Linked DNA regions of Homo sapiens: region 1 is linked to region 2. The links come from fine-mapping of genetic effects on gene expression. A gene starts in region 2. The other region holds a variant in brackets. All regions are shown on one strand. Distances are from middle to middle. Region 1 has its middle 20 kb from the start of BETALINC1. Region 2 holds the start of LINC01727 (long intergenic non-protein coding RNA 1727).

The links. PIP is the estimated chance that this variant, and not a neighbour inherited with it, causes the effect. A credible set is the group of variants that fine-mapping cannot tell apart.
Region 1: its variant is the best candidate, but not a certain one, in a credible set for the expression of LINC01727 in whole blood (TOPMed, PIP 0.77).

What each region holds. Positions count from the first base shown.
Region 1 is chr20:21,541,936-21,557,779 of GRCh38, forward strand. No RefSeq gene overlaps it. Among named protein-coding and RNA genes, the nearest start is that of BETALINC1, 20 kb to the left of the region's middle. The variant T/C (reference allele first, on the strand shown) is at 6,701.
Region 2 is chr20:21,560,752-21,576,595 of GRCh38, forward strand. It overlaps LINC01727 (long intergenic non-protein coding RNA 1727), which reads left to right and starts at 9,273. Exons shown (of 4, transcript NR_109880.1): 1 at 9,273-9,497. RefSeq lists an enhancer at 13,501-14,001.

The sequences.
Region 1 (15,844 bases), 19 kb before region 2:
CAAGCAATCCTCACTCCTCAGCCTCCCAAAGTGCTGGAATTACAGGCGTGAGCCACCATGCCCAGCCTGTTCACAGTTTTTGAAGGTTGGGGATTCAGGCATGGCCTAGCTGGATTATCTGTTCTAGGGTTTCTCACACAGCTGAATCAAAGTGCAGACCGGGGCTGGGGTCTCATCTGAAGGTTCTACCAGGGGAGCTTCCACATCCTGGCACACAGTAGGATTCAGTTCCTTCTGGATTGTTGAATTGATGGCTCCAGCTCCTAGCTGGCTATTGGCTGGAGGCCACTCACAGTTCTCACCATGTGGGCCTCCTCAACATGGCAATTTGCTTCATCAGAACTGACAAGGAAAAGAGTCTACTAGCAAAACGGAGTCACAGCCTTATGTAATCTAATCATGGAAGAAGCGTCTCATCATCTTTGCTATATCCTGTAACTTTACAAGATAAAGTTTTGTAACTGGCCTCTGATGAAGAGTTGAAGATGAATTTTGAAAATAGTCTTACTTCAATTGGAATAAAAATTTAAAGTGAATATTATAAATTTATTGAAATTGTTTAAAGAAGTTCCTAAAAAGGTACCTTTGTCAACAGGTTTCTCTACTGTGAGTGTTATTCAAGCCAAACTAGAAATGGTTTAGCTGTATATTATGCCCTGTGAGCAGAACTGTTGTCAATCCAATCTGGGTTATATATGTTAACAAGCGAGAAGAAGGCTCGTTTGCTGTATTAAAAACTTTACATATTTTTCTTTAGTTCTCTTTTTGGTTATGCATTGCTATAGAACAAACTACCCTCAAGACTTAATGGCTTAAATACAAGAACCATTTTATTATCTTTTTTTTTTTTGATACAGGGTCTCAGTCTGTTACCCTAGCTAGAGTGCAGTGGTGCAATCATGGCTTATGGCTCACTGCAGCCTCAACCTCCTGGGCTCAAGCAATCCTCCGACCTCAGCCTCCTGAGTAACTGGAACTACAAGTACATGCCACCATGCCTGGTTAATTTTTGTATTTTTTGTAGAGACAGGGTCTTGCTATGTTGCCCAGGCTAGTCTTGAATGCCTGGGCTCAAGTGATCCTCCCACCTTGGCCCCGCAAAGTGCTGAGATTACAGGCGTGAGCCACCATGCCTGGCCCATTTTATTATATCTAGTGATTTTTTATGTTAGGATTTCAGACATGGCTCAACAGGCAATTCTGCTTTACCTGGCATTGGCTGGGATCCCTGGGTATTATTCAGCCAGTGGCTACTCTGGTCTGGAGGGTCTAAGACATTTTTGCTCACCTGCCTGGAGCCTTGGAGGGGATGGCTGGAAGACTGGGCTGTACCCCAGATAGAATCAGGGTTTCTCTTTGTGGTCCCTCCAACAAGGTCACTAGATTTTCTACTTGATGTTGTAGGGTTCCAAGAGAAAGGAAGTAGAAATTCCCAGCCTCTTGAGGTTCAGCTCCAGAAAGTGGTAAAGCATGACTTCTCCCACATTTCATTGGTCAATGTGGTCACAGAACCTGTCCAGATTCAACGGGAGGGGACACATCCACCTCCCAGGGGAGGACTGTTAAAGGAGGTATTGCCCAGATTAACTGTCCCACAATTGTAACTGCTGAGCAGCAAAAAGCTTAGAGTGTAATTGCAATTGTATACGATAATTGCCTATACACATCTTCTCAAAGGAGCATGTCCAGTTTTTACAATTGTTTTTTTCCTCATTATGTTAGTTTTGATTATATTTACTGAAATGTATGTTCCCTCTGATTAACCTAAAAATAAAGTTTGGGCTTATATTTTTAAAATTTTATTTTTCTGATAATTTATTTTTGTTGTATTTTACAAAAGTGTGAATCTGAGGATGATAAAAAATTTAGAAAACCCTGGTTCTTACCCTCAGATAGTTTGCATAGTGCTATTATAGAAGATAAGAGAGTTAAATTAGGAAGCAATGTATACATGCTTCCCCCCTTATCATGGGGCTACCCCCCAGCAAACCCATTGTAAAGTTGAAAAGTCTTAAGTCCAATGATCATATATCAGAGACCATCTATACTGGATGGACTATCTGATGGATTGGAACAGGAGGGCAGTGGGGAGGGAGCCAGAACTCAGCCCCTGCTCCTATTCCCAAGCCCAGCTGTCTAGGACCTGGGCGTCCATTCAGAATAGGGATAACTGTTTATTCTCACAGACATGGGATTTGCTCAGCAAACCTGCATGGCTGTTCCCCAGCAGAGTGAGTGCTTTTTCCAAATCTTCCCAGAGAGATGGCTATCCATGGTCAAGCCATGAGCTGTCCAGCCAGAGGGGCAGCCATCTCCAGTTGGCATGGAGGCCCATAGATACTTGTGGCCATGTGAATCAGAGTCCTCATGGTCATCATAAGTGGGACATCAGAGAAAAAGATATTCAGAGTGTGTTAGGCTGTTCTTGCATTGATATATTTTATAATGAGCAATTATAGACTGGGTAACGTATACATAAAAGGTTTAATTGGCCCACAGTTCTGCAGGCTTTACAGGAAGCATGGTGATGGCATCTGCTTGGCTTCTAGGGAGGCCTCAGGAGGCTTACAATCATGGCAGAAGGCAAAGGGGGATAAGGCACTTCACATGGTGAGAGCAGGGGCAAGAGAGAGAGTAGGAGGGAGGTGCCACACACTGCTGAACAACAAGATCTCGGGAGAACTCACTCACTATCGTGAGAACAGCAACAAGGGGATGGTGCTAATCCATCGTCCAATCACCTCCTCCCAGGCCCTGCCTCCAGTACTGGGATTATAATTCAACATGAGATTTTGGCAGGGACAAATATCCAAACCATATCACAGAGTTAAATGTAAAGGCTTGCATTTGGAAAGCCATACCCAACAGCACAAGGTTGGAGGAGAGATGACATGGAAAAGAGGGGCTTTAGTTGACAGTAAGGTCAATATAGGTCAAGATGTCTCCCCCCACCAAATTAACTTAAAAAAAGAGAGAATGTGTTCTTAGATTCCGGTCATGGAAATTCATATCTGGAACAAAGGAAGTGAGAGTTCCACTGTATTCCACCCTGCTGAGAAAATGTATTCATCCACTCATCAATTATGAATGAGCTATCTCCTGGGGTGGATGCTAGGAATACAGAAATGAAGGATACGAGGCTAGCCCCGGGGATGCTGCTCTGTTTCTATTAATCAGAATTTGGTATTCCTTCGTGGGATACCTGCAGAGGGGTTCAGTTCTGATGTTACCCTTTCATGGGGATGTGGAAAATTAGAGTGAATCCCTGAGGACAGAACTGGGATGTGAAGGACTCAGATGATCACATATAGATGATATGTAAAGGAACGGACGATGTTTGATTTAGTGAATAAAAGAGAGGGGACTCTTGTTGCTTTTTTTATGTCCAACACTTATGACCAATCTGAAAGCCACTAGCCATATGGGACTATTTAAAGCTAATTAAAATACAATAAAATAAAAATTCAGTTTCTTAGTTGTAGTAGTCACATTCCCAATGATCAATTGCCGCAGGTGCCTAATACTGGAGGCACAGATGTGGAATATTTCCATCGTCACCGGAAGTTCTATTGGAAAGTGCTGGAAAAGGCTTCCATGTGGGAGATAATTTATTATCTCCATGCTTTATTTAGATGTGAGGGTTGAAATAATGATGATAGATCACTGAAAATTAGAGCAGAATAGATTTTAACTTTGTATTAGGAAAAACTTCTGAGCAGACATAGCTGTCCAGAGACGCCTGCAGGCAGTAAATCCCCTGTTACTCTAAGAATTCAGCTCAGGGTGGCCTGACTGAGATGCTCTGTATGATTGCTGGGGCTGGCCTTTCTCCCCTGGAGTATTCTCCGTGGTGTGGAAGATGTTCTTTATCACATGCCTTTTCTGTTCCAGGGGCTCAGCTCCATGCCTTCCCTGCACAATCACATTTATCGTTTCATTGCAATTCTGCAAGTCAGGTAATATTATCCCCCCTTTTACAGATAAGGAAACTGAGACTCAGCCAGATAAGTTGTTCAGGTTCCGGTAAGTGCAGTGATTCAATGGATCCAGGTTGTCAGATTCCAAAGCTTGTAACTGGGACAACTTAATTCTGATTTTTTAAAATTATGCTCAGTAAATATTAGTTGATTGAACAAATTGCCTCAAGCACATGTTAGTTTCTAAAAAAACAAACAGTTTTTTTGGGTGGCTTATATCTCAATGAAAGTAAAAATAAATTATGTACAGAAGAAAGGATATTAATAATAAAACATTAACATCAGTTAATAGTTCTTGGTAGAATTAAAGGTTTTTTTTTCCTATTTGTCCTTTTTTTTTAAATTGTTGTTTACTCAGCAAAACAAACAAACAACTTAAGAATGGAATATGGGCCCTGAGATAACTTAGTGCCTACACAGAGTATCAGTCAACTGTTGCTGCATAAGAATCCACCCCCAAAACATAGTGACTTAAAACAGCAGAGGTTTATTACTTCTTGTGGTGGTGTGGATTGGCTGGGTGTTTCCTTTGTTGGCTTCTCCAGGGCTTTCCTCTGCGGTTGTATTTAGCTTGAAGCGGGTGGGACTGGAAGGTTTACATGGCCTCACTCAGTGCTGGCACTTGGAACTGTCAGTTGGGGTAGGCTCTCCACGTGGCCCTTGCCCTCCAGGAGATTTCACCCACTTCCTTACAGAGTAGCTTTCAACATCATCAAAGGGTGTTCCAAGGGGCAAAGGTGAAGGTTGTAAGTTCCCTTGCAGCCTAAGCTCTGGACCATGTCACGTTCTGTGGCTCAAAGCCAGCTGACTTGAGGGATGGGGAAATAGAATTAACTTTTTGATGGGGGGAGCTGCAGGACATTACAGCTATGTTTTTAAAAACCTTCCATTTATTGTAAAGCATGCATTTAACCTCACAGAACAGGGCAGAGAATAGTCTAGGGATTGTCTCAAATACCATCTTGAAATGTTGGATTAATTTTTTGGTGGTCTGTGGATAATTTCTTTAGAATGTTCATAGCTGCTATTCATGGTATTCTTACCTCTATATACATCCTATTTTTGGCCTGTGATGGCTACAATATAATCCTGAACATTCAAACACCTAGGCTTTTCCCTTTTGAATGATTACGCTCAAGTAGAAATAATAGATGGAAACCAATAGTTTTTATCCAAGTGAAGGCACTCTAAATGATATTTTCAGGAGGGATTGATGATTGGGAGATAAAAGAAATAAAAACATGATCAAGGAAGCAAACCCAAATGTTTACCAACAGATGAATGGATAAAGAAGTGTGGTATATAGACACGTACAATGAAATATGATTCAGCCTAAAGAAGAAACGAAATTCTGTCGCATGCTGCAACATAGATGAACCTTGAGGACATTATGCTAAGTGAAATACATCAGTTACTAAAAGACAAATACTGTATGACTCTGCTTATACGAGCTACCTAGAATGACGAATTCATAAAAACAGAAGGTAGAATGATGGTTGCCAGGGGCTGGGGAGGGAGAATGGGGAGCTGTTGTTCAGGGGGCACAAAGTTTCAGCTTTGCAAGATGAAAGACCTCTGGAGATCTGCACAATAATGTAGATATACTTAACCCTACAAACCGTACACTTAAAAATGGTTAAAATGGTAAATTTTTATGTTTTTTTTAAGCACAGTTAAAAATTTAAAAATGAAAAAAAACTTGATCAAGGGCAAAAAAAAAAAAAAAAAAAAAAAAGTAGTGCATTCATTCAGAGGTCTTATCCCAGAGTACGGTTCCCAGCCATGGTCTACTTCTGTGCCTTTAGTTCTGGAAGCCTTGCTTCCCAGTGAGAACAGAATCAGGAGACCCTTTGAAAGAAGAAAGTAAGACCGGGAGCAGTGGCTCACGCCTGTAATCTAAGCACTTTGGGAGGCCGAGGTGGGTGGATCATAAGGTCAAGAGATCCAGACCATCCTGGCCAACATGGAGAAACCCTGTCTCTACTAAAAATACAAAAATTAGCTGGGTGTGGTGGCACACACCTACAGTCCCAGCTACTATGGAGGCTGAGGCAGGAGAATCGCTTGAACCCGGGAGGTGGAGGGTGCAGTGAGCCGAGATCACGCCACTGCACTCCAGCCTGGCGACAGAGTGAGACTCCGTCTCAAAAAAAAAAAAAAAAAAAAAAAAAGGAGGAAAGTAAAGGAAAGTAAATAATATCTGGAGAAGATAGGGTTCCTGTCTTAGAAAAGCCCAAATGCAGCCTGTTGGTTGGAGCAGTTGAGTTAGTAAGCCACTCCACAGTGACCAGAAGACCTGCTTTATGCCATTTGTTTTAACTACGTTGCCGCGTAGGCACCCACTCAGCTGAGGGCCTTAAATGCCACCTGCAATAAAATAAAAACCTTACAGTTGCCAACCATTTCATCTGGTTTTGCCCTGAGAATCTGCAAATCCTCTTCCATTGGTCAGAAGTTTCACAGCTGAAGAGATAGGTAATATTCTTGATGAAGTCAGTTCAAGATCAAGACAATGGAAATTTCTTGCAACGACTTTCATCTTCTGTGTCTATTGGTCGCATAACTTAAGCGTGTTGGTATCTCTGTTAGTGGTGAAGTCGGCTGCAAACCACAAAACACCTGACTGCTACGGAAGATATTAACAGGGACTTTTTTCCTTCTGCATAACAGGAAGTCTTGAGTAGGTAGTCGAGGTTGGGTAGAGGACACTTCTGTTTCAATTC[T/C]ACATCCCTAGGGCTTTGGAATATGAATGATTCATGTTGCCTTGTGGTGGCTAAATGGCTACCGTCCCCTGTCCCTGGAGGCCTCACAATTCTTTTCCAGGTAGGGAGAAGGGGGAGAAGGGTGGAGCACACTAAATGGCAAACAAATGTACCAGCTGAGTCTGTGTGTTCATCTGGAATGCAAAGCTTTTCTGGAAGCCTCTCCCAGCAGACATCTCGCTGGCCCAAACCAGAACCCTACCCTATGACCACTGCTAGCTGCAAAGTGGCTGGGGGACAAGAGGGTATTTTTGGAGTGGGCTTGCTCAGGCAGGTAACAAGGCTACTGAAGTTAGTCATTAAAACCTTCTTTTTTTTTTTTTTAGACAGATTCTCACTTTGTCACCCAGGCTGGAGTGCAGTGGTGTGATCTCTGCTCACTGCAACCTCTACCTGCTGGGTTCAAGCAATTGTCCTGCCTCAGCCTCCCGAGTAGCTGGGATTACAGGCGCCTGCCACCATGCCCGGCTAGTTTTTTTATTTTTAGTAGAGACGGGGTTTCACCATGTCTGCCAGGCTGGTCTTGAACTCCTGACCTCAAGTGATCTACCCTCCTTGGCCTCCCAAAGTGCTGGGATTACAAGTGTGAGCTACCACGCCCCGCCCATCAAAACCTTCTTAAAGGGGCACACATCCATATAATGCCCCCCAACTCCACACACCACTGTCTCTCCAGCAGTCACAAGCTGGAAATGGAGCTCCACCCTTGTGGCAGGGAATGCTTGTGCATAGGCCTCTGAACAGCCAGCCTATGCCTACCATCCACGTCCCAGGTCCTACTTCTAATAACTTCCTTTACAATGATAAATCCCTTAAAGATGGGAAAATTCTCATATCTCAATCTATTTGCAGGTATACCATACCTTGAATTTTGTTTGTGCTTAATATATATTTGCTGATTTTCTGAAGTGATTGAATTCTTTTCCTCTAAAGACAATTCCAGACTGTTCCAGGGGTGAACCTTGGGAATGGAGAATGGGAGCACTTCTTAGCTGGATCTTAGGAACATTGGAGTTTTCTACCAGATAACACTGAATGACATTATCTTTCTGTAAGTTCTCTGTTATGGCTGGTGCTTTAAGCTCATGCCTCTCCCTCCAGCCTCCATCTCTTGCTGGGTCTCTGTTGGCAGGTGTGTACCCAGGTACATCCAGTAGCTGAGTTGGTGACAGAAAGAACTGAAAAAACACAATCTCCAGCCTCCACATGATGAAAATCACAGGGTTGTTTAAATAGAGGGGGCTATTAATATAGATTTGTCCTTTTCTCCCTCCTTCTGCTTAATCATTGTCAGGAGGGCGGTAGAAAATAGTCTGCACACCAACAAGGCTCTGGAATAACTAATTGAATACTATAAACTTCCACCCAGGATTACAAGGAGGGACAGTTGCCTCTCCAGGGTGCTCATTTTGTTTCCGGATCCTGGCACAGGTTGGTCCCAGGCTCCTCTGCCGGGGCGACTATGTCCAGGGCCTTTGGGAACCACGGGCTGATTTGTATGTTCTCATTGTAACAGTTTCTGAAGCCTCAATTTCTGAGGTCTTCCATGGCACACTATAATTTCAGGATTGACAATGATGCTGACAAGAGTGAAAAGAAAACATATTTAGGGAAACAGGAATTTCTCTCAACCTTTATTTTGACATTCAGCAGTAGATGATGGATGTTTTAAATTACTCTTGATAAGAAGCTATCAGTAGGAGTTATTTTGTTTCACAGATACCTGGCAGGTCAAAAACACACTCAAATTGAACAAATATTCTCAAATTAAGTACGGGGAATAGTAAGGCCGAGTAGCTCATGCTGCAGAGAGGAAGCACATCTAAAGCTACAGTGAGTGCTCAAGGGAGCAACTCCTACATCATTTCCACAAGAAGCAAAGAAGAGACAATGGCTGGGAGTCAGAATGGAAATTAGGTGCTTGCTAGTTTAATCTGGAGAGCTGGAACTGACTTAAGGAAGAGGTGGAGAAAACCTACCACCCGGGCTGTCGGGAAGCTGGGGAGCTTGGACTGAAAGAACACGTTGTTTCAAGGACTCTTCATTTTCAAATGTCTTTCACAATTTACTTAATCTCTCCGAGGCCTTAGTTTCCTCATCTATAAAATGGGCTGGTAATATCCTCATTGTTGCTGTGAGGGCCAAGGAAGTGATGCATATGAAACTGCTTTGAAAACTGTGATGTACTCAGCTACGTGGGAGACTGAGGCTGGAGGATTGCTTGAGTCCAGGAGTTTGAGGCCAACCCAGGCAACACTGAGAGACCCTGTCTCAAAAAACAACACAAGAAAACAAAACTGTGATGCATCATGCAGCTGCTTTTCTTTGGATAAATAATATTTGCTAAGTAAAGATAGTAGATGTTCCTCCTTTGCAAACCATTTTCAACTTCTAACACAGCTATTAGAAGTTGTAAGTTACATATATAAAATTTATATTATTTGTAAATAATATTCATTGTGCAAACATTTACTGAGCACCTCTGTGTGCCATGCACTGTGCTTGGTGGCAGAGATATAAATCCATTGATAATTTTCTCACTGTAAATTCCTACAAGTTCTTTCTTTCTTTTTCTTTTCTTTCTTTCTTTTTTTTTTTTTTTTCTGTGACAGGGTCTTATTCTGTCACCCAGGCTGGAGTGCAGTGGCACAATCATAGCTCACCGAAGCCTCAACCTCCTGGGCTCAAGTGATTCTCTTCTCTCAGCACCCGCAAGTAGCTGGACTACAGTAGGGGCATGCAACCATGCCAAGCTAATTTTTGCATTTTTTGTAGATGTGGTTGTGCCATGTTGCCCAGGCTTGTCTCAAACTCCTGGGCTCAAGCCATTTACCCGCCTTGGCCTCCTAAAGTGCTGGGATTATAGGCAGGATCCACCACGCCGAGCCCCTATAAGTTATTTCTTTAAAATTATTGGGTTTACATGGAATACTATGCAGCCATAAAAAAATGAATTCATGTCCTTTGCAGGGACATGGATGAAGCTGGAAACCATCATCCTCAGCAAACTAACACAGGAACAGAAAACCAAACACCACGTGTTCTCACTCATAAGTGAGAGTTGAACAATGAGAACACATGGACACAGGGAGGGGAACATCACACACCGGGGCCTGTCAGGGGGTGAGGGCAAGGGGAGGGAGAGCATTAGGACAAATATGTAATGCATGCAGGGCTTAAAACCTAGATGATGGGTTGATGGGTGCAGCAAACCACCATGGCACATGTATACCTATGTAACAAACCTGCATGTTCAGCACATGTATCCCAGAACTTAGAGTAAAATAAAATAAAATAATTTAAAAGATAAAGTTATTGGGTTAAAGTAAGTGCAAATTTTAAAGATTTTTTATGTGTATTAACCAAATTGATTTCCAGGAAGAGCTTACTCTTTCATAGTTTATGAGAAGTGTTGGTTTTTCTGCCCTTTTGACAACACAGGGCATCATTTGAAATTTTTGTGCTGTCCTGGTTTATTATTTTAATTTTCATTTATTTTGTTGTTAATGCAACTGGATTTTTAAAAAATGTGCTTAATGTATTTTACTATTATAATCATATTAAATTAGTGTTTTGTATAAAGCGCCCACAGCAAAACCAAGCAAAAAAGAATATTGTCCTGTCTCTTTCTTCTACTTGCTGGATCATGATTCTCATGAGTGGATGAGAAGGAAGCTGTGGGCTTTGGCAGGTCTAGAGAGAAGCTTGAAGTGACATCTAGGAAGGAGGGTCTCCCTTGGAGTCTTGGAGGGGCCATCGAGGGCTGAGAGAGACCGTGGTGGGGCAGACAGCACTATCCAGCCTCATCCACAGAGGTGGCATTTTCCAGGCTCTGGCTCCTATAAAGGTGTGGGTGACTTCTGAAGCTGGATCTATGGGCCACCCCACAGGAACAAATGGTCATGGTTGGAAATTCAGATGCCTTGGGAAGTACCAGTGAAAACACTGTCTAGTGGCTGTCTGCTACTCCTGGTTGCTTGAAAAATTTTTTTTGTGTGTTTGGTAGAATACATATAAAATTTCCCATCTTAACCATTACTAAGGGTACAGTCCAGTGTCACTAAGCACATCCATATTGTGCAACCATCGCCACCGTCCATCTCCAGAACCTTTCATCCTCCAGAATGGAAACTCTGTATGCATTAAACAATCACTCCCCATTCCCTGGTCCATGCAGCCCCTGGCAAACTCCATGATATGAATGGAGGCTCTGTCTCTATGAATGTGGCCACTCTAGGTACCTCATATAAGTGGGATCCTACAGGATTTGTCCTTTTGTCATGGGCTTATTTCACTAATGTGTTCAAGGTTCATGCGTGTTGTAGCATGTGTCAGAATTTCCTTCCTTTTTAAGGCTGAATCATATTCTGTTTACTCTTGCAGCCCCCTTTGGGGCCTTATGAGGCTTCTATGTTCATGGAGGTGCCAGCATTATGCTGGGGACCCAGCCTAAGATGAACCCACCTGGGAAAACCTCATGGAACTGAGCTGCAGAGCCTTCCTCACGGTCCTCCCCCTCCATCCCTCTCAGGTCCCCAAAGGAGACCAGGAGGCCTCTCCTGATTCATCTGAGGAGGGTTTGGTGGGCTGGGAAGTGTCCTTCCACTTACTTGGAGCTTTTCGGCAGCCAAATCTCTATCTTTCTCCGTATAATAGGTTCTCTCCCTGTTTTTGCAGGGAGTTGGTGGTGGGATTTGTGACAGTATGGAAATAGTAAAGACAGGCCCAAAGGGTAACCATACAGGAAAATATCTATTACCAGGTGAAAATTCCCCTTTTAAAAAAATGTGGGCTGGGCACAGTGGCTCACACCTGTAATCCCAGCACTTTGAGAGACTGAGGTGGAAGGATTGCTTGAGCTCAGGAGTTCAAGACTAGCCTGGGCAACATAGTGAGACCTCATCTCTATAAAAAAAAATACAAGAAATTGGCTGGGCATGGCGGCATGCACCTGTCCCACCTACTCAGGAGGCTGAGGTGGGAGGATTGCTTGAGCCCAGGAGCTGTGATTGTACCACTGCATTCTAGCCTGGGTAATCCTGTCTCCAAAAAAAAAAAATGTGTAGAGTTTGAACAGTTCACTTTTTTTTTTTTTTTTTTGAAATGGAGTCTCACTCTGTCACTCGGGCTGGAGTGCAGTGGTGCAATCTTGGCTCACTGCAACCTCTGTCTCCTGGGGTCAAGCAATTCTCCAGCCTCAGCCTCCCGAGTAGCTGAGATTACCGGCACCCACCACCACACCCAGCTAATTTTTGTATTTTTAGTAGAGACAGGGTTTCACCACGTTGGTCAGGCTGATCTAGAACTCCTGACCTCAGGAGATCCACCTGAGGGATTATAGGCTTGAGCCACCAAGCCCGTCCGCACACATTTTTTTAAAGAAAGAAATTTATGCACACCTTTTTGGAAAAGCAGGCAACTGAGATGGAATGGTCATTCTAGTCCTGTAGAGGATTTAAAAATATGAGAGCACTTTTGCCTTCTCCTACTCTCATGAAGCTGAAATCGTTTATTTATATAACTCCCACCTTTGGCGTGAACTTCAAATTAGACATAGTGTTATCAATTAATGTAAGAGAAACCCATCCAGAGAGGGGAGTGAGGCAGCTATAAAACCAGGTGGAATTGAATGCTTATAAAAGAGGTTCGACAATGTGATCTTCATGTCCTGGACTCCTGGGAGATTTTCCTTGAACTGGTTCACGTAGTCAAAAGCCTTACATTCTTTTCTGAAGGACAGTTGAGATCATTTTAATCATAATGGAGACTATATGCCGTGAAAGTCTTTAAAAGAATGAGAGGGAGAGTTTGCACGGTGAAGGATATAGAGCAGGCTGGCTTTGAGCTTACATTAGCATGCACCACCTCTTGTCTGGAAGCACCGCGTACCCTCACTAAGACTCATGATAACTACGAAAAGTGAAGCGAGGCTGGAAGAGAGGCCACGGATGTTAAGCATGTTAACATTTCCATTACATCTAAAAGCAGAAAATGGAACAAATAAAGCAGGTTGGGTTTTCTTCCCCCAGTATAATATATGCCAGAATGTCACAAGAACTCATTGTCTGCAGTGAATACAAAAATATGGGCAATTCAGGCTGAACAATGGAAACGTTGGTGATTCCATAAAAGCATCCCATTCGCATTAAGTTCATCTGGCTTTGTTTTATCCCTATTTTTTCCCCCAATAAAGCTGTGTCTTGAATAATATGATCTTTAAAGTTTAAGCTGCATATAGAAGTGCTTCTTCTTTTCCTCTCCACTTTCTCTGGTTCTGAAATGCAAGAAATGCAGAATAAAAGACAATTGAACCATCGTATTTGTTTTTTCTGCCCCTTCTCTCCAGTTAAATGCTGTTGTGATTTTGATGTAAACATCCTAGTAATTTTCACAGGAAGTGGGTGCAGGGATCCTAGCAGTGTGTCTGTTCAATGGTACTGTTAGGCGTCTTTTTGTTCAAAGGAGGACTTGTTCCAACGCCCTGGCACTGATCCAGTGCAGGCAGCCCGGGGACTTGGTGGGCCACCAGGGCAGGTGGTCCAGGAGCTGGACTGTGCACTTAGAGGGGAGGCTGGGTGGTCTTTTCTTTCTACTCGGGATCTCCTGCTCTTAGAAGACCGGCCTTTTGGGATTGAGTCTTTGAGGACTCAGAAGTGATTTTGACCTTGAGCTGACATTTTCAGAGTGAACGAGCTTGCTGAAAGGATGGCAATGTGCAATGTTTGGCTCTCCCCATGATTACAGAGTTGAGTTTAAGAGACAGAGGGAGTAAAAGAAGATGACATTTGAGTTTTTGTGAGTCTTCATCTTATTCCTTTCTGCCTCTCGTTGGAACTGACTGCCAATTCAGAACAAAACAAATTGTGAAAACTCCCCTCCTGTGTCACTCACCCCTGGCCCTCGGGGCCCAGAGTTGGAACAAATTAGGATGGCTTTTGACATTAGGCACAGGACATAAAGCCACAAAAAGTTTGTCTATCCACAAAGAAGCAGAACCTTTGGGTAGACCCATACACCCATACATATATCTACACAAAACACTGTGTTTTCAACCCAACAAGAAAATCATATTTCTCAGTTCTGTTTGACTTCCTCAGCCTTGTTTTCTTATCCCTGTTTCCTTCCTTCCTCCCTCCCTCCCTCCCTCCCTCCCTTCCTTCCTTCCTTCCTTCCTTCCTTCCTTCCTTCCTGCCTTCCTTCTCTTTGCTGATCCTTCTGAGTCTTGAGCCAGGATACAGGGCAACACTCAAGACTGTCCTCATGCCCTTTCCTTTCCCCTGTGATGACGACTCCCAGACGTGTTTCTCAGGCCTGCAGCTTGAGTGCACATGATGAGCTGAAGGCTGGAAAAGTTGAGAGGCCAAATCAGTTCAGAAAATTTATTAATTTAAATTTTTTAATTTAAAAAAGGATTTCATATTTTACCCAAACAGAAATGATCGATACCCATGTACCCGCCAGCTTAATCTGACTGATGTTAATATTTCCCCTGTCTTATCTTCGGATCTCTCTCTCTCTCTCTCTCTCACACACACACACACAGACACACACACTCACACACAAAGTTTTTACTATTTTACTGCTTGTGCTCCTAAACTTTAGCTTGTGTTAGAATCCCCTGGAGAATGTGTGAAAAGGAAGGTTCTGAGTTCCAAGTCCAGGAAATTGGATTCAACAGGATGGTGGTGGTAGGGAGGTGACCCACATCTACTCTTTCTCCTGGTGGATTGTAAACCTTCAACGAGTGTTATCTTTTAGTAGTAATTGTAACAGTGGCTGCAGCAATATATATTTCTGTTTTGTAAATCCTTTGTATCTTGTAGTAATTTTAGACTTACAGAGGGGTTGCAAAAACAGTACAGAGAGTTCTGTTTATTCCTCACCCAGCTCACCCCACTGTTATTGTTTTATGCAATCATAGTGCAATGGTCAAAACCAGGAACTTACCATGGATGCAATACTAGTGACTGAACTCCAGGTTTTATCTGGATTCCCTCAGCTCTTCTGCTATGTCCTTTTCCTGTTCTCAGGTGGAAGCCAGGACCCCACATTGCATTCACAGTCATGTCTCTGTAGTGTCCTCCCATCTGTGATGGTTCCTCCGTCTTTCTTAGCCTTTCATGACCTTGGCAATCTTGAAGAGTACTGGTCAGTTATTTTGTAGAAGGTCCCTCAATCTGGGTCTGTTGCACATTTGCTTTGTAACAAGCACCCGAGTGCCCCTGACACAGGCTGTCCTCAGACCACGTTTTGGAAGCACTGCTTTATACCTGGTTTTGGATCAAGCTTTTTCCAGGTTGATCCCCATATGGTTCATAAACATCGAAATTCCAAAATATAATCCGTCCCCAGATTTGGGAGCTCCTCACCTTTGGAGATAACCAAAAGCATGTGTTCTAAGCCTTGACATGTTTTGAACAATTCCAGTGAACTGTACCATGTACCATGGCTTTCTAAAGTGACTACTTTGCAGAGAGAGACACTCCTTGGAGGCGTGACGGAATGATAGCTTTTTAAGGGATGGCAGAGGGACTGGAGAGCTTACTTAATTCTATCTCTCTTCATTTTACACAGAAGAAAACTGAGGCCCGTTATAGGGGCATGATTTGCTCAAGGTCTCAGAACTGGTTGTTGGAAGAACCAGAAATAGAAACCAGGTTTACTCATTTTCAGCCTCGTGTTCTCCACCCCTCATCCACCCCGATTGTTGTTTATAAGCAGTCGCTGTATCACACCCAGCAGCAGTGATGAGCTCATACCCTTCCCTGGGCTGGCCCAAGGACACAAGCGGGCACAGGGCTGAGGTGGGGCTCCTCATGGAGGTGGGCGGGGGGCATGCTTTGCAGCCTCTGTCATCCCCCAGTGGCGCCGCTGCTCTTGGCCACACCTGCCATACTCAGCTCCGACCTTGCAGAGCTTGCTGCATGGCCCCACATTTTTAAACAGAGCTTTCTCCCAAGTTGCAGGAGCTTTTGTTACCCAGCACAGCGGTGGGGGCTGCTCATGGTGTGCAGAGTGACTCCAACAACGAGGAAAGTGACCGGGTAAGTGTGGTAGCCTCCTGACCTGCGAATGAAGAACCCGGAGGATGTGGAGGCTGGTTCT
Region 2 (15,844 bases):
AGACCTTCCTTCCATTGCACTCCTAGAGGCTTCAATGTTATAGGATGGCACTTCTTCATATTTAATCACTTCTGTACAGCTTCCTACATTTTTGCTATATTCACAAATCATTTACATTTACTTTGTAATTTTCATTAAATCAATTTTAAACCAATTTAAAAAATTTACTTAGCCGTAGCCAGTGGCTTTCAAAGTTGAACATGTATCAGAATCACCTGGAGGTCTTGTTCAATGACGTATGGCTGGATCTCCCCCTCAGGGTGCAGTAGGTCTGGGGAGGGGCTGAGAATTTGCATTTTATCAATTTTTCAGGTGATTCTGATGTTGCTAATTAGAAGGCTACAGTTCGACAAATACTTTTCTAAGCAATAGCATCCCAGGAATCATGGATTTGATATGGCTTTTTAAAAAGAGGTGTGTTGGCTGGGGGTGGTGGCTCATGTTTGTAATTCCAGCCTTTGGGAGGCCGAGGTAAAAGAATCACCTGAGGTCAGGAGTTCAAGACCAGTCTGGCCAACATGACAAAACCCCGTCTCTACTAAAAATACAAAAATTAGATAGGCATGGTTGTGGGAGCCTGTAATCCCAGCTACTCAGGAGGCTGAGGCAGGAGAATCGCTTGAACCTGGGAGGCGGAGCTTGCAGTGAGCTGAATTGCGCCACTGCACTCCAGCCTGGGAGACAGAGTGAGACCCTGTCTCAAAAAAAAAAAAAAGGGTGTGTTTTTTAGATTGCAATTAGAAACACGGAGACATTGAGAAGTGGGCAATAATAAAGCCACTTTTCATGAAGTAGTGAGATCCCCTCCCTACAGTGGGTGTCCTTGTGAAGGAGACCAGGGTGGCGCTCCCTGCTGGCTCTCACCCGCCCCCTGGCGTGGGTGTGCCTACTGATAGAGCCAAGGGCTGATATCCTATCTGGCTCTGTCGAAGGCACAACTTGGGGCAATTCCTTACCCCTCTTTGTCCCCCAGTCTTCCCATATAAGCAGGGAGGTGATGACACTGACTGACATCTAAGGGTTCTGTTGCTCCATCCTGGGGCCTTTTTGAAGATGGTTGCCTGATGGAGGCAGCCTCCAGAAGAGAGGCTGGAATCCCCCTCTGTGGGGTGGCGGGTGCACTGTGATGTTTCATGTATCAGCACTTTCTGAACTGCACTTGACAAAAACCCACCTCAAACTGGCTTGAGCAAGAAAGGAAACTTATTAGCTCATGCCACTGAAAAATGTATGTCTGGATTCAGGTTTGGCTGGATCCAGGGAATAAAAGGGTGCCATCTACTTCGTCTCACAGTCTCTTTTGCTTTCACCTGCCTGCTCCATCCTCAGGCAGGTTCCTCTCAGGCAAAGGTAAAACAGTCACCAGCAGCTCCAGGCCTATGTCTTGCCAACTTAGCACCTTTTCTCAAGGGTTTCAGCAAAAGTCTCAGCACTGACTCTCACTGGACTATATTATGCACCCATCACTGAACCCATTACTCACTGGAGCAGACACAGATTCTGTGGATTGGCCAGACTTGAGTCTGGTTTCTGCTCCTGAAGTGGTGAGGTATCACCTACACCTAAGAGTTGAGGAGGCATGGCTCTCCAAAGCATGTTGTCAGGAGCTATTACTAGAGAACAAAAGTATGCTGGGAAGGAAAAAACCCACAGTGGTCCTCCCAGATTCATCTGCATCAGTGGTGATCAAAGTGTGTTCCCTGAATCTAAGGGGAAGCATCAACATCACACGGGAGCTTTTAGAAATGCGATTCATGGCTGGGTGTGGTGGCTCACGCCTGTAATCCCAACAGTTTGGGAGGCCAAGGTAGGAAGATAGCTTGAGGCCAGAAGTTTGAGACCAGCCTGGGCAACATAACAAGACCCCATCTCTACAAAAATTTTTAAAATTAGCTGGTGTGGTGGCCTGCATCTGTGGTCCCAGCTACTTGGGAGGCTGAGGCAGGAGGATTTTTTGAGCCCAGGTGTTCGAGGCTGGAGTGAGCCATGATTGTGCCATTACACTCTAGCCTGGGAGACAGAGTGAGACATTATCTCTAAGAAAAAAAAAAAAGGAACAAGAAAAAGAAATGCAATTATCAGGCCCAGCTGTGCAGTCACTGATGTAAACCAGAGGCTCTCGACCGTGATTTCAATTTGAATCACCTGGGGTATATTACACCATCTAGACTCTACTCCCAACCAATTTTACCACGGCAGGGAGGGGACGGGGATCCAGTCACTGGTGTTTTAAAAAAATGTTTCTCCAAATAATTCTCATGGCAGCCAAGGTTGACAGAACCACTAGCTTAAACAGACTCTTGTTCTCTGCTACTTCTCACTTATGAAATGGCAGTAAATAAGACTGTGGACAGTTTTTCTGTTGAGAATGGTGGTGCATTAAAAGAGCTATTACTAGACTTGGGAGATGGCAACTTGAGCTGAGGATGTGACGGTTTTTAGTTTTTTTAATACACATTAAAATCAATATAGAACTGATTAAAATTTCTTCTGAGTACCAGCTAAAGTTACCTTGTATGCTATTAAGTATCCCTGGTGTAGGGGCAGGAACACTGGATTTGAATCCAGAAGACTTGCAGTTGAAAGCCAAGTTCGGTGATAGCTTGGAGAAGCCATGAAATCTCTCTTTATTTGCATGATGGGAAAGATCTCAGACACCTTTAAACCCCAAACAGAGAAACAGGTGGTGGCTTCAGTGGAGATGATGAGTGGGGTGAAGGCAGCCATTAAAGACAAGCACAAAAACCAAAAATACAAACAGGCAGTGGGATGGTTAGAATAGGATTACAGAATGTCTGTTGCTTTTTTTTCTTTTCTTTTTTTCTGGAGACGGGGTTTCACTCTGTTGCCCAGGCTGGAGTACAGTGGCACGATCTCAGCTCACTGCAACCTCAGCCTCCTGGGTTCAAGCAATCCTCCTGCCTCAGCCTCCTGAATAGCTGGGACTACAGGTGCACGCCAACATGCCCAGCTAATTTTTGTATTTTTAGTAAAGATGGGGTTTCACCATGTTGGCCATGCTGGTCTCGAACTCCTGATATCAAGTGATCCACCTGCCTCAGCCTCACAAAGTGCCGGGATTACAGGCATGAGCCACGGTGCCCGACCCACCAGAATATCTGTTGCTTTTGATGGGCTCAGTTTTGTGGAGAATTGTGAAAGTCTATGTGGAGGAAGGATCTCAGGTGGAAAAGAGGAAGAAATGACATTGGCGAGCTGGCTAGGACTGAGGGTACATGATGGAGAGAGTATGCAGGAGTTGACTGAATCCAGAAAAGTTTTGGATTTGGCTTAATTCAGGCAGGAAGTCAGCCCCTGAAGCAGACGTGTGACTAAACGAAGTGTGAAATGCAGGAGAGGCTCAGGGCAGAGATGACATTGGGAACCCAAGAAAGGGGCTGGAGAGCCCAGATGGCAGGCAGTGGAGGCCTTTCCTGGGTATTCCCACTGGGAAAAAAAAGGAAGGAAATAAGAGACTCAAGCGACTTTGAGGAGAGAGCGACTGTTTTAGTGTGGAGATGCTGAAGACCAGCATTTCAAGCTTGGGGAGCTGGATGGGTGGGAGGTGGCGGGGTCAATAGAGGGGAACCTGTGGAATGAGATGATCTGGGGGGAAACACCTGTGCGAATGGCAGGGGATAATGTGTAAGAAGGACAGGGTGCTTGTCCCTCAGGGACTCTGGTCTAATGGAGTCTTTCCAGGGCTGAGTGCCAGAAAATAGACCCAGGCTCTGCCCCAGGTTTCCGGCCGGCTGCACTTCACCATGTGCCCTGTTGGACTCTGACCTCCTGTTCTCACACCGAGACATTTTAGCCATGGTCAGTGTTTATTTAAGTTACTTCCCCTTGAGTTCACTGGCACAAAACACTGCCCGGTAGGCAAGTACTGCCTGTGCCCCATGAGGTCTGGGACAGTGCCCGCGGGTGTGCGTCCAGGGGCATCAGGAGTGCAATGTCCAGGCTCTCTGCTCCGTGCAGAGGCTCCTGCAGAGCCAGAGCGCTACGAGGGGGAAGGGGAACGTCTGGTTTACATTTTAATTTTAAAGATACTATTCAAATGCGGTACCGTTTTTTCAGATCCGAACTCAATTTTGCCCGTTTCATATTAAATTAGTCATCTCATAGTTTGCATTCTGTTTTGTCATTTGGAATTTTAAACACAAATAAAAACTCCACGTGGTCCCATGGAGACAGAACTGAAATAACTCAAAGTTTGCATCTTCACCTCTCTAGGCATCCTGCTATCATTTTTTATTTGGAATCCACCATTCATGGTGAATCTGCAGCATCCCAGGGCTTGTCTTGTGATTGCACCTGAAGGAAAGGCAGCTCAGACAACACAGCCATAGAAACCCACTTTTGAAACAGCCTGAGTCCACATGAGTCAGGTGCCGGCTGTAGAACTGAGAATTCTCTGAATTAACTTCTGAATAGGATGCAATGTTTATTAAAGGATCTGTAATAAAAAGATGCTATTTTGAAACTTACATTTATTTATATAAGATTATAACTTATCAGTAATCATCATGAATTATTTAGACCTTTGATCAACAAAATATTTTTTTTCTAGAGAGGAGGATTTTATTCCTGATCTCTTTAAGAATTGCTGGACCATGATAATAAAAAGCAGAAAAGTTTTATCAGGATTACTATTATTGTTAACTTTTCTACAGACAATGCCCCAGTGACCTGCCCTTGGTAGATCACTGACTCGCAAGGTGGTTATGAGGATTAAATGAATTAAAACAATTAAAGCACTTAGAAGAGGGCTTGATATTAGCTATTACTGTTTTTTCTACAACACATAAATCCCACTGCTAAAAGAATCCACAGGTATTTGATGAGGGCTGCTCATGAATCTCAAAAATCCTTACATTAAGAAGGTGGAAATAGGCCAGGCACAGTGGCTCATGCCTGTAATCCCAGCACTTTGGGAGGCTGAGGTGGGTGGATCACTTGAAGTCAGGAGTTCAAGACCAGCCTGACCAACATGGTGAAATCCCTTCTCTACTAAAAATACAAAATTAGCCAGGCGTGGTGGTGCACACCTGTAATCCCAGCTACTCAGGCATGAGCCACCGTGCCTGGGAAGTTTATTTATTTTTATTGTTTGTATGGTATTGTATTGTATGACTATGCCTCCATTTATTTATCCATTCTACAGTTCATGAACATTGGAGTTGTTCCAGATCTGGGCTAATAGGAACACTATGTTAGTTACCTTTCCTTGGTTACTAACAGGGTTGGGCATCCTTCATATGTCTGTTGGCTATTTGGATTCCCTTTTTTGAAACGCATATCAGGGTTTTGGGGGCCCATTTTTCTATGTTTTGTTTATTCCTTACTGATTTATAGACATTCTTTATGTAGTTTGAGCTCTCTGTCAGTTTTATGTTCCCCTAATATTTTCTCCCACTCTGTGGCTTGCCTTCTCGCTCTCTTAATGTTGTCTTTCGATTAACAAAATTCTTATATTTAATGTACTCGAATTTATCAGTTTTCTTTAACCTTCTAAAAGCTTTTTTTTCTTGGTCTTTTCAACTTGGTTTTCACATATACTCCACCTGGAATTGAATTTTGTATATGGTTTGAGGTAGGGGCCTCATTTCATGTTTTCCTTGTGGATACTCAATTGTCCCAGCCACATACATTTTTAAAATAGTTTTTTCTCTATCCTCCTTCAATTTTATCTTTGCCATAAATCAAGTGTCCATATATATCTGGATCTCTTTAAGAACACTCTATCCTATTCCATTAATCTATTATCTGTCCTTGTACAAACACTAGGCTGCTTTAATTAATGTAGTGTTATTTTAAGTTGATACTGGGCAGAGCAAATCCACTCTCTTCTTTGTTCTTCAGGAATAGCTTAACCACTTTTGGTCTTTTCATTTCCATATACATTTTAGAATCTGCTTGTTGGGATTTCAGTTGGGATCAGTAAATCTATACACCAAGTTCATGTAGGATTGGTATTTTTATGACATTGAGCCCTTCAGTGCATGAATATGGTGTTGCTTCTCATTTATTTAGGTCTTCCTTAATAAAAATTTACAGTTTTCTGCATAGAGGTCTCGAAATGTTTTGTTAGATTTATTCCTAGGTACTTGATATTCCTTTCAACACAAATGTAAATGATATATTTTTCTTTTAAATTAATATTCTAGCCATTTGTTACTAACACAGAGAAATGTAGTCGATTGTTGTGTAATGAGTAGCCTTGTAAAACTCACAGTTTCTAATATCTTATTCTGTCAGTTTTCTATGTATTCAATCATTATCTTCAAAATAAGAATACTTTTGCTCTTTCCTTTTTAAATCTTTGTGCATTTTAGTATATTTTTCTTGTCTTACTCTATTGGCTGAAACCTCTACTCTAAATGTTGAAGGGAAGTGGTTATTATGGGCATCTTTGTCCTCATCATGATTTCCAGAGGAAAGTATTTAATATTTCATTATTAAGTTAGATGTTTGCTGAAGATTTATTGTAGGTAAACAATATCACATTAATAAGTCCCCTTCTTTTTCTAGTTTGTTGATAGTATTTATTTTAAATAATAAATGAATGTTACACCTTATACTTGATTTTTGGATCTGTGAAACAATCACGTTTTTGCTTTATATTCTCAGTGTGATGAATTATATTGATTGATTTTTTTAACATTAAGTCAGCTTTGTGTCTTTGAGATAAACTAAATTTAGTAATGAAGTATCCTTCTATTTCATATCCCTGGATTCAGACTGACTTTTTCTGTTGTTTAGAATTTTTGCATCTACGGTCATACATGATATTCATCTGTCATCTCCCTTCCACTACGAATTAAGGTTTCAAGTCTACACTAGTCTCAAAAATGAGTTGAAGAATATACTTTCTTCCATTTTCTGAAAGACAGTCTAAAAGATTGGAGTTATTTCTCACTTAAATATTTTGTGAAATTTATACATATGCAACTTCATTACCTAAAAAGGGCCATCTTCCAAATTACATTAAAATTTACACAATTACATAAAATTTCAATTGTAATAAGTTATAATCATGTAAAATTGCAACCACATAATTAAAAAATTTAAAATGACAAATAGATAAAAATCACATAAATTACAATTTTATAAAAACTACATAATACATTACAAAATTACATGACAAAACCTTCCTCAAAACAGGCTTTGGAGTCAGACTGTCTCTGTATGAATTTTGGCGCTGAGGACAGGCTGTGCAATCCTGTGCCAATCTCTTTACTCCTCTGACCTCTCAACGTCCTTATCTACCATGGTCCCTCTACCTCCTTCAGATGTCAGGAGGAGTAAATGAAACAATGATATGTAAATCAATTTGCCCTGAGCTTGGTCTATAAAAGGTGTTTAATATTTGGTAACAACGTTCATGATTATATGTTAATAATTTATTCACTCAAGTGTTTATTGAGCATCTATTGTGGGGCCAGGCATGCTGGATACTGGGAAAGCAACGGGAGGCAAAATTGGATGCGGCCTTTCATGCACCCGGAGCAAGGATTCAGCGTTTGTTCCCGCAGAACCATGACCCACCCCCACTGAAATGAAATGGAGGCCAGTGTTTACCGGGCCACCTCTGCGTACCTCTTTTGAGCTCTGCATATTGCTTTTGTGCCAGATGGGCAAGAATAAATGAAAGCAGCCATTTCTGCTAGGGAGCAATCAGAGCTTAATATTGAGCTTTTTGGAAACTGACTCGTAGCAGTCATAGGCAAGGGCCACTTCCTTGAGGAAATGAATGAAGACGTCTTGCTTTTCCTAAGCTAGGTTCCCCGTTTGTATTTCTTGACAAGGGCCAAATGTGTCATACAAAGGACTGTTTTCATTGTCCCTGTTTTTCAGTTTCCTCCAAGCCCTACCAGCTTCTCTGCTTCTGCAGGAAGTTTACCAGGAAACAGGTGCACAAAAGGAAGAATTTGCTGAGGCCCTGGCAAACTGGAAACTGAATCCAGGTGGCCAAGGTCTAATCCTCCCCTACACCAGGTAATTTCTCTCCCTTGCATCTGATCTTGTGAAGTCCATAGTTCTCAGGTGGCCCATGGCTCCTCCAGTACTTCTGGAAATCTTTGCACCAGTGCCTTTTTTTTTTAATTTTTTATTTTTTGCCATACATGGCTTTGATTCTCTGCTACACATTTCTCAGATGGTTTTATGAGACCTCAGGAATAATACCTATTTCTTGGCTTTGTGTGAGGACTCAGTGAAACATGTTAGGAATGCTGTGAAGTCTGGTTGGCAGTGCAGAATAAGGGCTCATTTATTGGACTGGTTGTTGGGTCAGGTGGGGCAGTCTATCTGTAGATATACAGACACATAGATCAATGAACATACAGATGGAGATACAGCTATATAGATAGATGCACATGTACACATACATATAGTGTATTCACATACATGTATTAATTCAACATTTTTTCTTTTTTGAGATAGAGTCTGAGTCTGTCACCCAGGCTGGAGTGCAGTGGTGCGATCTCGGCTCACTGCAACCTCTGCCTCCTGGGTTCAAGAGATTCTCATGCCTCAGTCTCCCTAGTAGCTGGAATTACAGATGTGTGCCACCACCACGCCTAGCGATTTTTTTTTTTTCTATTTTTAGTAGAGACAGTGTTTCGCCATGTTGGCCAAGCTGGTTTTGAATTCCTGACCTCAAGTGATCTGCCCTCCTTGGCCTCCCAAAGTGCTGGGATTACAGGTGCGAGCCACTGTGTCTGGCCTAATTCAACACTTTAACAAATAATCCAGTGCCTACTATATGCAATTCACTGTATTCATATTTACATGAGTGGATCAATTATTAGTCCTATTTGTGAAATCCAAAAAAAGAATCTAACATTTGAATTTACGTAAGAAGTGTTGGAAAAACTGTTTTCCCAAATGAGCTAAGATGGAGGAATGGGACTTTTAGGAGTCGGCTTCACAAGTTACCTGCTAATCATTGATCTCAATGTAGGCTAATCCCAGGCAGTGAGAGATGGCCATTCGAGGGCATCACTGCAGAAGACCTGGCATTCTGCCTCCTTTTGGAGTCAGACTTTGGTCCCCTGCAGTGTTTGCCATTGTGGGGGCATCAGATGCTGATGGGCAGAATGAATGTGGAGGAAGTTGGCTTCACTAGGGCAAGGAATGAATGGCCACCACTGCTTTTGTGCCAAAGGACTAAGCCTCCCTGGGAGAGAGGACAAGAACAGGCTGGAGGAGGGGTGCCCTTCATCATCTTGTGAGCATCTGGGCCAAGTTCAGGGCTGGTGCTCTCGTTCAGATAGATTTAGCTGGTGGTGCAGAGATCCGTGAGCTTGCTTTTACAGGACTTTAATGATATATAAAAGCAGCACGAGGTGCTCCTGACTGTGGATTAATTTGGAGATGACTTTCTCTGTTGAAGAGTAGCAAGACTCTCGCGAGTTCTTAAAAATGCACTTGTTTGGTATGAGAATGAAAAGCAGTGGCTGAAGAACCAATCTTCAATGGGCAAGCCTTCTCTGGTAAGTTAAACAAATTCAGGCTGGGATTTAGAGGAATTCGTGCTTGTGTAAGGATTAGGGCATGCCAAAGTGAAAACTCCAGTATGCAAAAGTATTACTGAGAGGTGATTTAGAAATACAGATACTTGCGTTTATTTGACAGATCTGGAGCAGTTACTGTCTGCTGCAAAGGTTGCCACTACGGATGCAAGAGGAAAGGGCCCTCATGATTTCTGTTTGATTGTGGCCACCAAGACTAAATGGCGGAATGTAGGAATTACAAAAGCATGGAGGAAGGGAGGGAATTTTTGCAACTCATGAATAACCTTGTAAATGGAAAAGCCTGCTTTACCCCTGAAAAAGGAATAAAAGACTTGAGTTTACATGAGAAGTGTTAAAAAAAATTTCCCGTATACCCTTGCCTTCTGGTTAATTCCATTTTAAAATTGTAATTTAAAGCTAAATTAAAAGTAAGCCAATGTTGTGGAGGCGTGGAGTGGAATACAAGTACCTGGGCCCCACTTCCCAAGATCTGGATTTAGCTGGTCTGAGATAGATCCTAAACTCTGAATTTCTAACAAGCTCCCAGGTATGCTGATGCTGCTGTTCTGCACGTCATACCTGGGGTGGCACTGAGTGAGAGGTTGTTAGTTTTCCATTTTTGAAGGTATTGAGCAGAGAATGGTTCTCAAATTTGGCTGCATTAGAGTCAACTGGGGAGCTTTAAAAAAGCCCTAGTATCCTGACTGCATCCCAGATCAACAACAGCAGAAAGTCCCATAAAAGCAAGCTCATGGATCTCTGCACCACCAGCTACATCCATCTGAACAAGAGCACCAGCACTGAACTTGGCCCAGATGCTCACAAGATAATGAAGGCTGTGGGGTTCAGGCATCTGTATTTTTAATAGCTTCCCACATAGTTCAATGTGTAGCCGAGGTGAAGAACTGCTGCTCTAGGAGGAAATTATTTGAGGCAACGGCAACCAAAGGTCTTAGTCATCATGAGGTGTCAGAATCACTTTGGAGACCACGAATATTTTGTAACGCTTCCTGTCCTATCTTGAAATGAAATTCACAGATTGTATAATCTACTTACATGCATCATTACAAAAAGTTCTTTCTGTAATATAAAGGAGAAACAAAAGAGAAGTTGAAAAAGGTAACTTTTGGTAAACACACACACACACACACACACACACACACACACACATATTCGATAGGTAAATGCTTGGGCACAAGCTCTCTAGAAGACGTAATAAAGTATCCAGGTGTTTGTCTTGTAAGAATGTGATCCCGACAACCCCAGAGCCAGGCCAAGCCTGGAGCACAGGACCAGTGACTCAGACACTACCGGCTTGGCGTCATGGTGCCGTGGTTTTCCATACTGGTGAAAAACGCTCAGTAAATTTCTAGGCACAACAACACACGTTGACTGACTCTGGGTTCCTGCATATTCCGCTCATACTAAACCAGGCGATAATGCTCTATGATTACGTGTCAGAGAGTTAGGGCCTAGGGTAGGTAATTAGCAACTGGTTGTTCACCGACATGCATTTCAGGCTGAATTTTGAGCATTTCAGAAATTCTAGCTTCCCTCTTCCTCCCCCAAATGCGAAGATGTCTCCACTATAATTGAGCAATCACAAACGGCCCCTTCCAATGTCTCAGGGCTCCCCGTTGAACACCCATGTGGAATAAGGAGTGAAGGTGAGCTCACTGAAATGCACTCGATGCCAGTTCCACCTTCCACACCGGAGCAGCGTCCCGCAGACCAGGGCTGGTGGGCGAAACTGGTGGGCAAAATGGGGTGGGCTGGATAAAGGACTCCCACCCCAAATGGCTGCAGGGGCCTATTTGAGGGAGTGGAGAGAGAAGGGTTGCGGGCTTCCAGCCAAGCTTTACCCTCACTGAAAGTTCAGGTTCAGGGCCCAGTCCCCCAGCGTGAAAAAGGGACCCTTATAAAGAGGTAAAGGGGCTTCCTTCAAATCCCCTGCACCCGCGCCCCCTCCCTCAAAGATAATCCTGGGAAATATTTAGCGATCTCCAGTGCCCTCTAGTGGCAGATACTTGTCATGCCAGGCACCAAAAGATGGTTAATAATTTTTATTGTTTAAAAACATCACACAAGCCCATGCAGGTTCATACAGTAACAATCTCAAGCTTTCCTGCATTTCCTTTTATCATCCCGATCTTACTACACCCCTAGAGAACATTTACATTCCTTTCCTATGCATTTACAAATGATATATATGTATATTATATATTCGTTTCTATATGTTACACAGAGATGTAGACATGTAGAAATATACATTACATGTGCACATATGAAGTGTATGACTTATAAATAAGCATAAAATATATTTTGTATGGCATATATGTGTATATATTTTATATTTACAAATGTAAAAATATTTTAAAACTTTATATAAATATATAAAAATATAATACATTTAATTCTATGCTTTATACAATATGTTTATATAAAGTTTATGCTTATATTGATAATATATTTTTATGTACTATATAAAGTCTGAAAATATATTGTATAAGGTTTATTTTTATTTTTATTTATTTATTTTTGAGACAGGGTCTTGCTCTGTTGCCCAGGCTGGAGTGCAATGGCACAGTTCACTGCAGCCCCGAACTCCTGGGCTCAAGGGATCCCCCCACCTGAGCCTCCGAAGTAGCTAGGACTACAGGTGCAAGTTGCCATGCCTGGCTAATTTTTTGTAGAGACAGGATCTCCCTGCGATGCTCAGGCTAGTCTTGAACTACTGGGTTCAAGCAATCCTCCTGTCTTGGCCTCCCAAAGTGCTTGAATTACAGGTGTGAGCCACACACCCGGCCTGAGGTTTTTAAACACAAAGTGATCTGACTGTTTTACCGCTGCATGCTGTTGTGCAGTGTGGAAATAATCTGATTTGTTTGATTTTTCTCCCCTACAGATGGACATTTAGATGCCTTTCATTTTTCTTCCATTGCAAGAATACTTTGTACATATATGTGAGTTTTTCTATAAGAAACACTTCCAGCTTTTCATTTAAGTCAGAGACTCAAATCTGAAATGCAAAAGCTTGTAAAACTGTGAAGTGTTAAAAATCATCCCGCCAAAGGAGTGAGGTGAAGGGAAGTTTTATAAAATTGGAATGGAAGGAAAAGGCTGGACAGGAGTGGGATGGCGTGGCTGAGAGGGAGATAGGAGGCTGGGTATGGATGAGGAGTGGGAAGTGTGGGATGGCGTGGCTGAGAGGGAGATAGGAGGCTGGATATGGATGAGGAGTGGGAAGTGTGGGATGGCGTGGCTGAGAGGGAGATAGGAGGCTGGGTATGGGTGAGGAGTGGGAATTGGGAACACCGTTTTCACCTAAAGCTGTATTCAGGGCCTGGGGTTTTTGTTTTTGTATTTATTTAGAAAATAGATAAAACTTCTATCTGGTTCAAAATTCGACAACAACAGAAAGGTGTTAGATCTCATCTTCCTTATTCTTCTGTCTTCCAGCCGCTCCGTTCTCCCCAGCAGAGCCAACTAAAGTAATCAGCGTCTTCTGTATCCTTCCACAGATAGTACATGCATAAGCAAAAAGAAAAAAAAAAGTTTCTTTCTCTTTCTCATTTTCCCTTCAAAAACCACCAATAATTGTACCTGACATACATAGCCTGCCCCTTTTCTTCATTAAATAATGGGAGATTATGTCATTAGGAAGAAACAGATTTCTTCATTCTCTCTGCCTGGCATTCCATTATGTGGATGAGGTGTTATTTATTTAAGCAGTCCGCACCTGAAGGACATCTTGGTTGGTTCCAATCTTTGCTATGACAACAGTGCCACAATGAGTAGCCTTGTACAACTGTCATTATGTGCATGTGTGGGGACACATGTAGGATACAGTCCTGGTAGTGGAATTCCTGTCTCAGAGGGTTTTTTAAAAAGAACTGCAAGTTGCCGTCTGTGGAAGCCTTGCCAGTTTGTACCCTTGTGTGTTCTGCTTCACCTCTACCAGCACCGGAGTCACTGAGCGTTATGTTATTTGCCAACTGGATAAGTGAAAAATGGTATCTCAGGGCACGTTATGGGACATGTTAAAGTATAAGTGCAGCCAAATATCTTTTCAAACACTGATGAGGGGCCCTGGAGTTTTAGTGCCTTTCTTTAGAGGAATTTTAGGTGCTGGTCTTACTGACTCGGAGCCTCTTCCTCAATCTGCATCGCCTTAGCTGACCCCAGTGCACTTTAGGGCATTACGTGGATTTGGGGTTTTCTCATCCTGCTCTCCTTCCTTTGGGAGTGGCCTCCAAGGCAGCTGTCTTCCCATTCCCCTTGCTTCCCTCCTATCTCCGTCTCAGCCACGCCATCCCACTCCTGTCCACAAGCCGGGTGCATGAGCCATTCCAGAGGGACTTTACCTTGCTGGAATAAGCGTGGTAAGGGGCCTGGGTGTTGTGGTCCTCCCTCCTTGGGCTCTGGTGCTCTGGTTCCCAGACTGTGACCCACGATCCTCTCGCGTCCAATGTGCGTGACCTCTCCGTCCGATAGCACAAGCAATTCTCAAACAGCCACTTGAGCTGGACGCCCCCGGACATGCCCTGCACTTTTCCAGCTTTACATCCTGGCCTGTGTTGCCCCCTCCATGTGTGATGCCCTCCTTGAGTCCGGCATGGGTGCACGGCTGCCCGCTCCAGCAGGTCAACCCTCGGGCCCATGAACTTCCCCTACACAAGCTCTTGTGGCACCAACTGTCTTCCTAGGTGGTGGCCACACCAGGAAACATTTCCCAGCCTCTCATTGCTCTTGAAAATTGTATCATCAAATAGCAGCACATGTTAAACAGTTAAGAAGAAAATTAACATGCAAAATTAACAGAAGAAGAAAGAGAAAATGCAATCTGCCCAAAGCTGTTCTTGACAATTTTTGGAGTGATTTAATGTTATTTTAAGTTTTATGAAGAAAGTACAATCTTATCAATATTTGTATCTTGCTATTTCATATTCACTGCAATTTAATATGTAAAAGTTACCACAGGGACACTAAGTGGTAAAGAGTTAATGGTCTTCCCTGATTCCCACTGCCTGAGGCCAAATTTCCATCCACGCCAAGCATGCTTTTCAGCATCTCCACCTTCAACTGCTGTTATCTGTCTGCCCTAGCTTCTTCCAGCGCCCCAGGGAAAAAGCTGCATCACATTTTGGAGGGAAATAAAGAAAGAGAACTAAAGACCTATTGGATTTCAGCCTTTGGTTGGTGGTTAATAACCTAGATAGCTCAGGCATTTTCCAGGCTGGAGTGCAGTGGTGCCATCATAGCTTACTGCAGCCTCGAATGCCTGGGCTCAAGCAATCCTCCTGCCTCAGCCTCCTAAGTTGCCTAGTTAATTTAAAAAATATTTTGTAAAGACAGGGGCTTCACTATGTTGCCCAGGCTGGTCCCAAACTCTTAGCCTCAGGAGATCCTCCTGCCTTGGTATCCCAAAGTGTTAGGGTTATAGGCCTGAGCCACTACACTTGGCCCAAGAATTTAATTAAAGAGGTGGGATGAGCAAAGAGTTCCTGGAGGGAAGCTAGCTTTCACCTGCCTTCCTGCTACCTGGAAGGTGCTGTTTATGAATTCAGGATTCATCTGTCCACATTGATGGTTTTCTTAGCTTGTGAGGTTACTGAAACACCATTATTACAGATAGAAAACTTTCCCCAGTGGCCCCTTGAGACAGGTTGAATAATGTCACTTAATCTCTATAACCTTCCTCTTAAATAGGCATGGTCACTCTCTCTTTTAATGATGAGAAAAACGGGAGAAGAGAAGTCCATAGAAGGATGGAAACTTGGCCTCAGGCGGTGGGGCTCAGGCCCCTGCTCTGTTCTGGTTCCATGCACTTAGTGGATGGGAAGACCACTAACTCTTTACCACTTAGTGTCACTGTGGCAGCTTTTACACATTGAATTGCAGTGAATATGAAATAGCAAGATACAAATATTAATACAATTGCACTTTCTGCATAAAGCTTAAAATAAAGTGAAGTCACTCAAAAAAAGGTCAAGAACAGCTTTGGGGCAGATACCTTCCTTCCTTCCTTCCTTCCTTCCTTCCTTCCTTCCTTCCTTCCTTCCTTCCTTCCTTCCTTCCTTCCTTCCTTCCTTCCTATGGAGATATTGTTACAGGGAGGCCTATGGGATCCTGCCTAACTAGTTTTGGAGGCAAATGCTATGTGGGGGCTTGTAGGAGGCAGCGCTGTGCTTGCTGGAGTTAAGCTCTAACCTGAGTTGGGTTTGCATCCAGCTGCTGGTTGGTCCAGGGAGGTCTCCAGCTGCTGCTTGGAAACCAACAAAAACAGTAGTGAGTTCCAGAAACGTTGGAGTAAGGTGGTGACTTGG